Linked DNA regions of Homo sapiens: region 2 is linked to region 1. The links come from fine-mapping of genetic effects on gene expression. Tissue or cell type: whole blood. Region 1 holds a variant in brackets; the other region holds the start of a gene. All regions are shown on one strand. Distances are between the middles of the regions.

What was found. PIP is the estimated chance that this variant, and not a neighbour inherited with it, causes the effect.
Region 2: CLEC4F starts here. The variant in region 1 is fine-mapped to the expression of CLEC4F in whole blood (INTERVAL, PIP above 0.99).

What each region holds. Positions count from the first base shown.
Region 1 is chr2:70,794,985-70,800,519 of GRCh38, forward strand. No RefSeq gene overlaps it. Among named protein-coding and RNA genes, the nearest start is that of FIGLA, 7.1 kb to the left of the region's middle. RefSeq lists an enhancer at 5,102-5,535. The variant G/C (reference allele first, on the strand shown) is at 2,685.
Region 2 is chr2:70,817,737-70,823,271 of GRCh38, forward strand. It overlaps CLEC4F (C-type lectin domain family 4 member F), which reads right to left and starts at 2,863. Exons shown (of 7, transcript NM_173535.3): 1 at 2,727-2,863; 2 at 2,039-2,155; 3 at 1,619-1,708. The coding sequence starts at 2,787.

The DNA.
Region 1 (5,535 bases):
GTTGATATACACAGTACTGGCTCAGTTGCATTCATCCTATACTGCTCTATGGGTCTAGTAGGGAGTTTCCTGTTCCAGGCTGCCTGAAGTATGTGAACATCTTTAGGTCCCAGAATGCATTGCTCTCCTTGTGTTTGCTATTCCTGCTTATTGCTCTTCCTTTGTGGGACCAGACCTCTTGGGATGCAACTGATAACATCCTCTCTTTACTGCTTTTTTGTTTCCTGAGTCCTAAATACCTTGTAGTCCAGTACAATGCCAGCCGAATGGAGTCCACCCTTGGAGTAAGGATGGGGACACACAGCTATCTCAAAACACAATGCCTTGAAGAAAGGGGATCCCTGTCTAGTTTGCTGATTGATACAGACACTAGGTCTCTGAGTCAATGGTGCAAAAAGCAGGATAAGGCTAAAGGACCTTTTACCAATTTCTTATTGTTGCTCTGTTTCAAAAAGCAAGACATGTGCTTGCTTCAAATCATGTTTCTGACCTCAGCTCCATGACTATTACAGGTAGTCGGTAAAATTTCTCTGGCAATTGAGTTACTACCTGTCTTGGTTTCTGCTGCTGCTGTCAGTTTTGCCTTTTTCTGTGTGTTATTATGTATTTTAGAGGGAAATGAGAAGACTCTTGGTCAAATGCCATTTTAAAGAGAAAATTCCCCTAATACTGGCTTTAAATAACACTTTTTTTTCATTTAAAATTAAGAAAGCTATTTTTTCACTTAGGGAGAGTTAGAAGGCATGCAGTAAGAAGGAACTCTTCACCTTTGCCTGATGACATAAGGCTGGGTGAGATGATGACTTAAGGCTGGCACATATTGAATGCTAACAAATGTCACCATTATTGTCACTTCTCTTGCTAGAAAAGCTGTTTCCCTCCATGCCTGTGGGCGGCTAAGGAAAGGTCAAGACTGCTCTGTCTACCTGGGGACAATTAAACAACACTCCTCCCGAATCCTGCCTTGGAAGGGGAGGGCAGGGACAGGAAGGAAAGAGGGGGAACCTTAGCAGTGATCAGGACACACTCCAGGCAGAGGCTTCCAGCAGGCCAGGGAAGCAGAATCTCAGTTTGGACCCCTGGATTTGGAGCATTTGAATTTTTCTGACTTTGGGTAGGGGGACATTTTTGTTTGTTTTTCCCTTAGGCTTTCAATACTCTAGCCTGTTTTACTTGTGCAAAGGGGCCTATGAATGATATTCCTAAAGCCAGGAAGAGGTAATCATGTTAAGCAGAGTGAAAAAAAACCCCCAGGGTTTCAGGGTTGTTGTTTTTTTTTTTTTAAGCAGTACCTCTTTAACAAGCCATCCCTTCCTTTCAGGAACTCCCACCCCAGGTGCCTCATCACCCCACCCCACCCCTTCCAGAAGGGATTGAGAGAGATAAGGTAGGTGGGGTGTCATTCCTGAGCTGTCCCCTTAGAGGCCTCTGCAGGGAGCCTGCCTTGCAGCAGCAAAGACCTCAGGCCATTCCCCCCAGCAAGGCTCAGTGTAGGCTCAGAAGCTCTTCTAGCTATTCTAAGCAGATGCCAAAGGATTTCATTCAGGATCCTGCTGCTTACACAACCATCAGAGGGCTGGAGAGGCAGGAGGAGCTCTGAGTTTGAGAACACACCACTGCCACTGCCATCAACCCCACAAATGTGGGGAAGGGGCCTAGGACACGGTGGTGGAGAAACGCCTGGCCCCATCTCCTTGCTTTCCACAGAAAATATACAAAAGGACAGGAAGGTGAGCTCTGCCTCACTTTCACCCTCTCAATGTCCTACAACAGTTTCTAATTAAATCATCTTAATTGGCATTCAGAACACTGGGTCCTAATTCTGAAAAATGAAGCTTCTGCAGTGCCAAAAGGCATGAGGTGGAGGCAGCCAATCCACATTATCTTCTCCTACGAGACACAGAGAAATTGCCCTCGCTCCATCTCCAGCCGGTCCACCTTGTCAGTCTTTGCCCGTTAGTTACCCTAGGCCTAGCTGAGAAGAACTCTCCCCTGCTGGGTCTGCCCTCCTGGGCACTCAGCATCCCTTATCACGGTGACCACATTGTGGCTCACACATGCCACCTTTCTCCCATTAGCTCAGGCAAGACAAGAAAGAGCTGCTAAAAAAGCAGCTTTAGTAAAGGAAGACCAAGAATGCATTTTAAACAGGGACCAAAGACTATAGTCAAGCCTATATTGCCCAGAATTCCCATCCAAATCGATTTGGCAATTTCATGTTGTTCATATTCACATAAATTCACATTGTTATGATGATATATTATTTTTGACACAGCATTATAATTTTATCCCACTGTATCCTGGGCATTAGACTTTCCTCCCATTGTGCACATGAGAAAATTGATAGAGTTAAATGACCGGGCAAGGTCACGCTGCCGGTCAGTAGCAGAGCCAAGTCTAGAACTCAGCTTTGTCACATTCACTGCACGTTTGTCACATTCACGTTCACTGCAGCTCTCTTTCCTCCAAGTCTGAGTGGCCTCCAACCCAAGAACACTCAGCACAGCCTCACATTTCCAGCTGCTTGGGTCCCGGCACACAGGTCCTGCCTGCTTGCTATGTGGATTATTTCACTTCCCTTGGGGGCCTTCTCTTCCTCCACCCCCACCAAACATGAGCTGGGATTAGTGTATTGTCTACACCACCAGCAGGGTTAAAAGAAGTTCAAAAGTGCCTCTCAGAGA[G/C]AGAACAGAGAACAGAGAAAAGGAACAGGCACAGAGACTCTGCCCTTGGGCTTTGTCTCCAGGAAACTGGCCAAAGACCTTCCCTTCCCAGAGCCCCTTAGCTCAAGAGCTTCTCATTGGTGCTGCTGTGCTTCAGAGCCCTGACAAGACATAAAGAGAGACCTACAGCCTCGTGAAGAGGCCCTGGGAAGCTTACAGCCATGTGAGCTGCAGTGGCCTTGCAGAAGAGCTGAGAAAATGAAGCAGAGAGTGGGGGCTACAGGCAGAGGGCCATGGCTGTCAAGGGGGACCTTCTGCAGCAGGGCGTTTGTATGACCTTCAGGCAAGTCATCTGTATTCATCCATTTTCACACTGCTGATAAAGACATAACTGAGACTGGGAAGAAAAAGAGGTTTAATTGTATTTACAGTTCCACATGGCTGGGGAGGCCTCAGAATCATGGTGGGAGACCAAAGGCACTTCTTACATGGCAGTGGCAAGAGAAATGAGGAAATGCAAAAGCAGAAACCCCTGATAAAACCATCAGGTCTCGTGAGACTTATTCACTACTACATGAACAGTATGGGGAAACCACCCCAAAATTCAAATGATCTCTCACTGGGTCCCCCCCGCAACACGTGGGAATTATGGGAGTACAATTCAAGATGAGATTTGGGTGGGGACACAGAGCCAAACCATATCATTCCATCCCTGGCCCCTCCAAATCTCATGTTCTCACATTTCAAAACCAATCATGCCTTCCCAACAGTCCCCCAAAGTCTTAACTCATTTCAGCATTAACCCAAAAGTCCACAGTCCAAAGTCTCATTTGAGACAAGGCAAGTCCCTTCTGCCTATGAGCCTGCAAAATCAAAAGCAAGCTAGTTACTTCCTAGATACAATGGGGGTACAGATATTGGGTAAACACAGCCATTCCAAATGGGAGAAATTGGCCAAAACAAAGGGGTTACAGGGCCCATGCAAGTCCAAAATCCAGCAGGGCAGTCAAATTTTAAAGCTCCAAAATTATCTCCTTTGACTCCAGGTCTCACATCTAGGTCATGCTGATGCAAGAGGTGGGTTCCCATAATCTTGGGCAGCTCCACCCCTGTGGCTTTGCAGGGTACAGCCTCCTTCCTGGCTGCTTTCACAGTCTGGCATTGAATGTCTGCAGCTTTTCCAGGCACACAGTGCAAGGTGTAGGTGGATCTACCATTCTGGGGTCTGGAGGACGGTGGCCCTCTTCTCACAGCTCCACTAGGTGGTACTCCAGTAGGGACTGCGTGGGAGCTCCAACCCCACATTTCCCTTCTGCACTGCCCTAGCGGTGGTTCTCCATGAGTTCCCTGCCTCTGCAGCAAACTTCTGCCTGGGCATCCAGGCGTCCATACATCTTCTGAAATCTAGGCAGAGGTTCCCAAACCTCAATTCTTGACTTCTGTGCACCTGCAGGCTCAACACCACGTGGAAACTGCCAAGGCTTGGGGCTTGCACCCTCTGAAGCCACTGCAAAGCTCTATGTTGGCCTCTTTCAGCCATGGCTGGAGCAGCTGAGACGCAGGGCACCAAGTCCCTAGGCTGCATACAGTACAGGTACTCAGGGCCCTGCCCAAAAAACCATTTTTTCCTGCTAGATCTCTGGGTCTGTAATGGGAGAGGCTGCCACAAAGGTCTCTGACATGCCCTGGTGACACTTTCCCCATTGTCTTGGGGATTAACATTTGGCTCCTCATTACTCATGAAAATATCTGCAGCTAGCTCAAATTTCTCCTCAGGAAATGGGATTTTCTCTTCTATTGCATTGTCAGGCTGCAAATTTTCCAAACTTTTATGCTCTGCTTCCCTTTCAAAACTGAATGCCTTTAGCAGCATCCAAGTCACCTCTTGAATGCCTTGCTGCTTAGAAATGTCTTCCACCAGATACCCTAAATCATCTCTCTCAAGTTCCAAGTTCCACAAATTTCTAGGGCAGGGGCAAAATACCAGTAGTCTCTTTGCTAAAACATAAAAAGAGTCACCTTTGCTCCAGTTCCCAAGAAGTTCCTCATCTCCATCTGAGACCATCTCAGCCTGGATTTCATTGTCTATATCATTATCAGTATTTTTGTCAAAGCCATTCAACAAGTCTCTAGGAAGTTGGAAACTTTCCCACATTTTCCTGTCTTCTTCTGAGCCCTCAAAGCTGTTCCAATCTCTGCCTGTTAGCTAGTTACAAAGTCGCTTCCACATTTTCAGGTATCTTTTCAGCAACACCTCACTCCTGGTACCAATTTACTATGTTAGTCCCTTTTCATGCTGCTGATAAAGACGCACCCAGGACTGGGAAGTAAAAGAGGTTTCATTGAACTTACAGTTCCACATGGCTGGGGAGGCCTCAGAATCATGGTGGGAGATGAAAGGCATTTCTTACATGGCAGCAGCAAGAGAAAATGAAGAGATGCAAAAGTGGAAACCTCTGATAAAACCATCAGATCTCATGAGACTTATTCACCACCAAGAGAACAGTATGATGCAAATTATCTCCCACCGGGTCCCTCCCACAACAGGTGGGAATTATGGGAATACAATTCAAGATGAGATTTGGGTGGAGACACAGAGACAAACCACATCATCATCCAAACTCTCTGGGCTTTATCTCCCCATTTGTAAAGTGAGGGTTCTAATAGAGCCTTCCTCAGAAGTGAAGTGAGGAGTGAAGTAGGCCATCAGCAAAACAATCACGACTAATGCTTGCACAGTGGGATCCGTGTCCCATGCACTATCCTAAATTCGTCCTATGCATTGACTTTCCTAATTGTCACAGCACCCCCACGAAGGAGGTACTGTAGTTACTTCCATTTCACAGAAGAGGAAACTGAAACATGAAAGTCA
Region 2 (5,535 bases), 23 kb after region 1:
GCTATGATAGAGGCATGCCATGCCCTCCAGGTAACTAACACTGGACCTCAGCTGAGATGGCCTTTTAAAGAGCCAGCACCCCCAGTGTTACATAGGGCAAGGGTCCCTACAGAACAGTTTGAGGATACAGGAAACCTGAGTAAAAGGCCTTGCGCTGGGGTCGTTGAAGGAGACCCCACAGCCCCTTTAATCTGCAAGGTCTTTCCCACCAACCTCACATGCATCTACCTCTGGTCCTGCTAGCATCCTTTGTTCACCTCATGAACTAGGACCTAATCTCACACATCCATGATCCCCTTCTGATTCCAGTCTCCCCTCAGGAATAGGGAGAAAAACCCAAGATGGCAGGGACCCTTTCTGGAGCATCCATGTACTATTTCTCATGCACTGCCTATGTAGATGTGTGAGACCTCAGTTACTGTGCTAAGGTAAGAGAGGGGACCTTTCAAGGTACTGGGAGTTCAGTCAAAGATTCTGCTTTGTAAAGATAGACAAACAAATCAATGCGACAGAATGGAGAATACGGAAGTAGACCCCCACACATATGGACAATCGAATTTCAACAAAGGTGCAAAGGCAATTCACGGAGAAAGATAACTTTTTCAACAAATGGTGCTGGAACAATCAATTTCACACCATTATACAATAATTAACTCAAATGAGGCAGAGACCTAAATGTAAAACTAAAAACCGGGCTGGGCATGGTGGCTCACGCCTGTAATCCCAGCACTTTGGGAGGCTGAGGTGGGCAGATCACGAGGTCAGGGGATCGAGACCATCCTGGCTAACACGGTGAAACTCCGTCTCTACTAAAAATACAAAAAATTAGCCAGGCGTGGTGGCGGGCGCCTGTAGTCCTAGCTACTCCAGAGGCTGAGGCAGGAGAATGGCATGAACCTGGGAGGCAGAGCTTGCAGTGAGCCGAGATCACGCCACTGCACTCCAGCCTGGGTGACAGAGCGAGACTCCGTCAAAAAACAAAAACAAAAACTAAAACTAAAAACTGTACAATTTCCAGAAACAAAGGAGAACATCTTTGTAGCCTTGGATTAGGCAGATTTCTCACATACGAGATCATGAGAATAATCCATAACAGAAATAAAATGATAAATTAGACTATCAAAATTAAAATCTTGTTAGGAGAATGACAAGACAAGTCACAGACTGAGAGAAAAATATTTGCAAATCACATGACTAGCAAAGAACAAAGAGTACATACTCTATGATCTCTTATCTATAAAACTCTAGAAAAAGCAAACTAATCTATAGTTACAGCAAGTAGATCTGTGGCTGCCCAGGGATGAGGAGAGGAAGGGAGAGGAAGGAATTACAAAGAGCCACAAGGAAACTTTGGGGTGAGGAGGATGACTATGTGATGATGATTGTGGTGATGGTTTCAGGGGCACACACATATGTCAAAACTTAACAGATTGTATGCTTTAAATATATACACCATTAGACCTCAATAAAACTGTGTTTTTAAAAAATTATCTCTTTCTGTGAGGATGGTGGAGCCCATTCAGTGGTCAGAGGGTACCAGGAGAGAAGCTCATCCTAGGGTCTGAGCATCTGAAGGCCCCAGTTCCCTCTGCACCCCACCCCCACTGTGGCTACTCACTGTTGGGTTCAAAAGGTAAATGCCCAGTAATGTTGTCTCCCAGAATTACGGCTTGCACAGGCTTCGGAACAGGTCTTGTCTGCTGTTGAACTGAGACATTCCATTTTTCCAGGTCAGCAAATCCCCAGCCCTGAGCCTGGGAGGATACGCTGTCCCACACAGAGGTAGAGTTCCAGAACCGGGGAGATAGCAGCAAAGACCCTCCCAGGGTTTCCCTCATGAACCTCAGTTCTTGGGAGGCTCCCCCTTGGACAGTGGCCTTTATCTGTTCCCAGGGAAGCTGTGGCTTGGGCCTGGAGCTGGAGGTGGAATGATCTTTCTGGGAGCAGAGAGGCCCAGAGAGTGTGCATCTGGGGCCCCTGGGGACTTTGTGCTGAAAGGAGAGAAAGTTAGTGAGATTTGGGTCACCTGGGGGCTTACCCACTACAAAGAGAGTCACAAGAGAGAAGACCAAGGTCACAGCCATAAATGCCGGGGTAGCCTGAACGAGCCTCGGTATCTTGGGGGCTGCAGGAGCCATTGCCACAGAGTCCACCTCTGCAGGGGAGAAGGCAGTGTCCAAGGTGAGAGGGTGCTGTGCAAGGTAAGAGGGTGCTGTGCAGGCTGAGACACAGCCTCTCTGATTCTGTTTCCTGGGTTGTCTAATGGGGATGATAACTCCTGCCATGCTTATCATGCAGGTGGTTATGGAGAAGGAAGACAAAACACTTTGGGCTGTTCACCAGAGCTAGATGTGGATATGGTAGCAACACAGAGCTGAGGAGCTCTGAGACCGAGACCACCGATCTCCAAATCTCAAGGAGGCTTTGGTGGTGCACAGGGCACAGAACCTGGCACAGAGCACAGAGCAACAAAAGTGTAGTTTGAATGAAAGAAGAAAGGAAGGGAGGGAGGCCTCACAGGACCAGCTCAGTGTGCAGAGCCGGGATTCCAAGCCAGGACCATCTGAATTCAAAGTTCATCCCCTTTCTCTTGCCAGGTCTGCATCCCCAAGGACAAGGGTCTGGGGAGAGCAATAAGACAGCAATAAGCTGCCTTATGGCAGAGGGCCAAAGGACAGGCAGGCTACTCCCTCACTGGGCAAGAGCTGGGGCCCCAGTTTTCTCACCTTGGGGGTGCAGGGAGACACACTGGTTATCTGTGCAGAAGCGGACTGCCTCACCGTCCATCTCTGCTTCCTTGATCCTCCAGCACTGCTCCCAGCCACTGGCTCCTGGAAGGGCCGTCCCGTGGACCAATGGCAGTGGAAGCAAAGCTGAGACACCCACACTTATATGCTCCTGACCACCCTCCCAGCTCTTCCTCCCTCCCTGCCTGACTCTGCAGAAACCCGCCCCAGTGGGCCCCTCCCCTAGAGGCTCCCAGATACCCATCTGCCCTATTTTCTTCCTCTTCCCATTAGCACCTTCCCGTCAGTTCTCAGCCCCATCATCCCAGCCTCTGCCGCATCCAGCATAACCCCAAACACACCTCTTCTTCTCTGGGGGCTGGGACTGGCACCTAGGAAGGGGGTCTCAGCTTTGCACAGAAAACATCCTTATGACTATGGCTGACCTTTAATTCTAGCCTCAGAACCTCTTAAGTAAAAGGAGTCAGGTAAAAGAGGGGCCAGGTCAGTGCGGCCGATATTTGCAGGTCAAAGGAGGAAGCGGGGTGACCAGCCACTTGGGGACTCACAACTGAATTATAGTATACAGGAGGATGTGCGGAGGTTATATAAAAATACTACATGATTTTGTACAAGGGACTTGAGCATCTGTGGACTTTGGTACCCATGGGAGTCCTGAAACAAATCCCCTGCAGATACCAAGGGACAACTCTGTAAAAAATATATCTGGTCTTCATCTCAGTTCCTGACACAGAACTCCTAAAACGCTTAGAGTTTCCTGGGTGACAGGAGTGTTTTTTGTTATTCATAATAAGCCCCTTAGGACTACACTTGGGTTTATGCTAATGAGGTGACACAGGGTGGACCCTTAGATAATTTCAGGCTGGAGGCTGGTCCCAGAAAGACCAAACATGGGATTAGACTTTGGAAGACTGGGACTTTCAGCCACCCACTCCCATTCCCTACTCCCAGACCTCCAGGTATGGGAGATGGCCTGGGGTCTGGGCTATAACGACTCTTAAAAAATGAGATTCAAGGAGCTTAGGGATTGGTGATCCACATGCCAGGAGGGTGTCATGCCCTGACTCCACAGAGACAGAGTCTCCTGCACTTGGGACCCCACTGGGCCTTGCCCTGTGTACCTCTTCATCAGGCTGTTTTTGTCCTTTACAATAAAAGAATAGGAAGTACAGTGTTTTTCTGAGTTCTGTGAATTGTTCTAGTGAATTATGAAAACTGAGAGGTTGTTGCAGAAACCCCCTAATTTTTTGTTTGAGACAGGGTCTCCCTCTGTCACTCAGGCTGGAGTGCAGTGGTACGATCATAAGTCAATGCAGCCTTGAACTCCTGGACACAAGTGATCCTCAGTTCTCAGCCCCAACATCCCAGCCTCTGTCACATCCAGCATAACCCCAGCATAACTGGGACTACAGGTGTGTGCCAACATACCTGGCTAATTTTTTATTTTTATTTTTTTGTAGAGATGGGATCTCTTTTTATACCCCAGGCTGGTCTGGAACTCCTGGCTTCAAGTGATCCTCCCACCTCAGCCTCCCAAAGTGCTGGGACTACAGGCATGAGCCACCTTGCCTAGCCAGAACCCCCAAATTTGTAGTTGACCAGGCAGAAGTGGGGTCACTACCTCACTTGTAGCTAGCATCTGAAGGGGGGCAGTCTTGTGGGACTGAGGCCTTACCCTGTGAGATCTGTGCTAACTCTGGAAGTTAGTGTTAGAATCTGTTTGAATTGTTGGATGCCCAGCGGGTGTCAGAGAATCGGCTGGTGTCAGGAAAAAGCACACATTTGGTGTCAGAAGTGGTGTCAGAAAATACCAAGCAGGCCCCAACTTTAGCTGATTGGATCCATGCCTCCTGAGGTGACCAGGTTCTCAAGACTAACTCCAAAGAATCTGATGGAGCAGGCTGGGGCCAATGTGTGGCTTTCAATGAGCCCTATCCCTTCCAGGAGGAACAGATACTGCTTCAGGGGTTCCTGCTGCTGGGTGGGCCTAGCATTAGAAGAGAAGGCATGAGGCATCCCAGTGGACAGTGCCATGGAGCTGTGCAAACGTGATGTCCCTGTCCCTGCCACAGGGGTTACCAGCTGAACAGAACCAATATTCCCATGGCTGGTCAAGGAACCCCTCTAAAAGCCAGTGCTGGGGTTACCAGCAGATTCCTGTTCTTTGGTTCCTTCTTGTCTCCATTACTTCAAACGGTCACAATCTTTTTGAAATAAATCACATTTTCTTTCACTTTGGAAAGTCTAATTACATATTACACCATCATAGCAACTCTTAAACAAACTCACAACCTTGCAAATGGCTTGTTCCATCCATGTTGTGTTGTTTCTTTGCTACTTTCACCCTCTGTTCCTATGTCCCATTCTCATGTCTTTTGCACAGATCCTGGGGTCAGCCTCTTATAGGTCCCCAGCTGCCAACTAACAACACTGCAGACCAACCACAAAGGTGGAGAAGCCACACGGAACGTGCCTCCTCTGAGGCCGGGCCAGGAGAACAGCTTTGGCCCAGGAGGAGCCTGTGCCATGCGTGGCTGATGTCAACCCGGCAAGCAAGTCGCCCCGTGGGTAGGGGATCTGCAGACAGGAAGGGAGCGGTTGCCCACACCCAGTTCATGATGGTGGGGGTGTGTGTGTTTGTGTGTGTGTGTGTGTGTGTTGAACTGTGCAGTGTTAGGGGCCCAATGTGTAGAGTGCAGAGCCACCATTTGCTGCCTTTTACCTCCTGTTTGTTGAAAACTGACCTTAGAGAGGAGGGCACAGCAGGAATGAAGGGTGAAGGCACCTA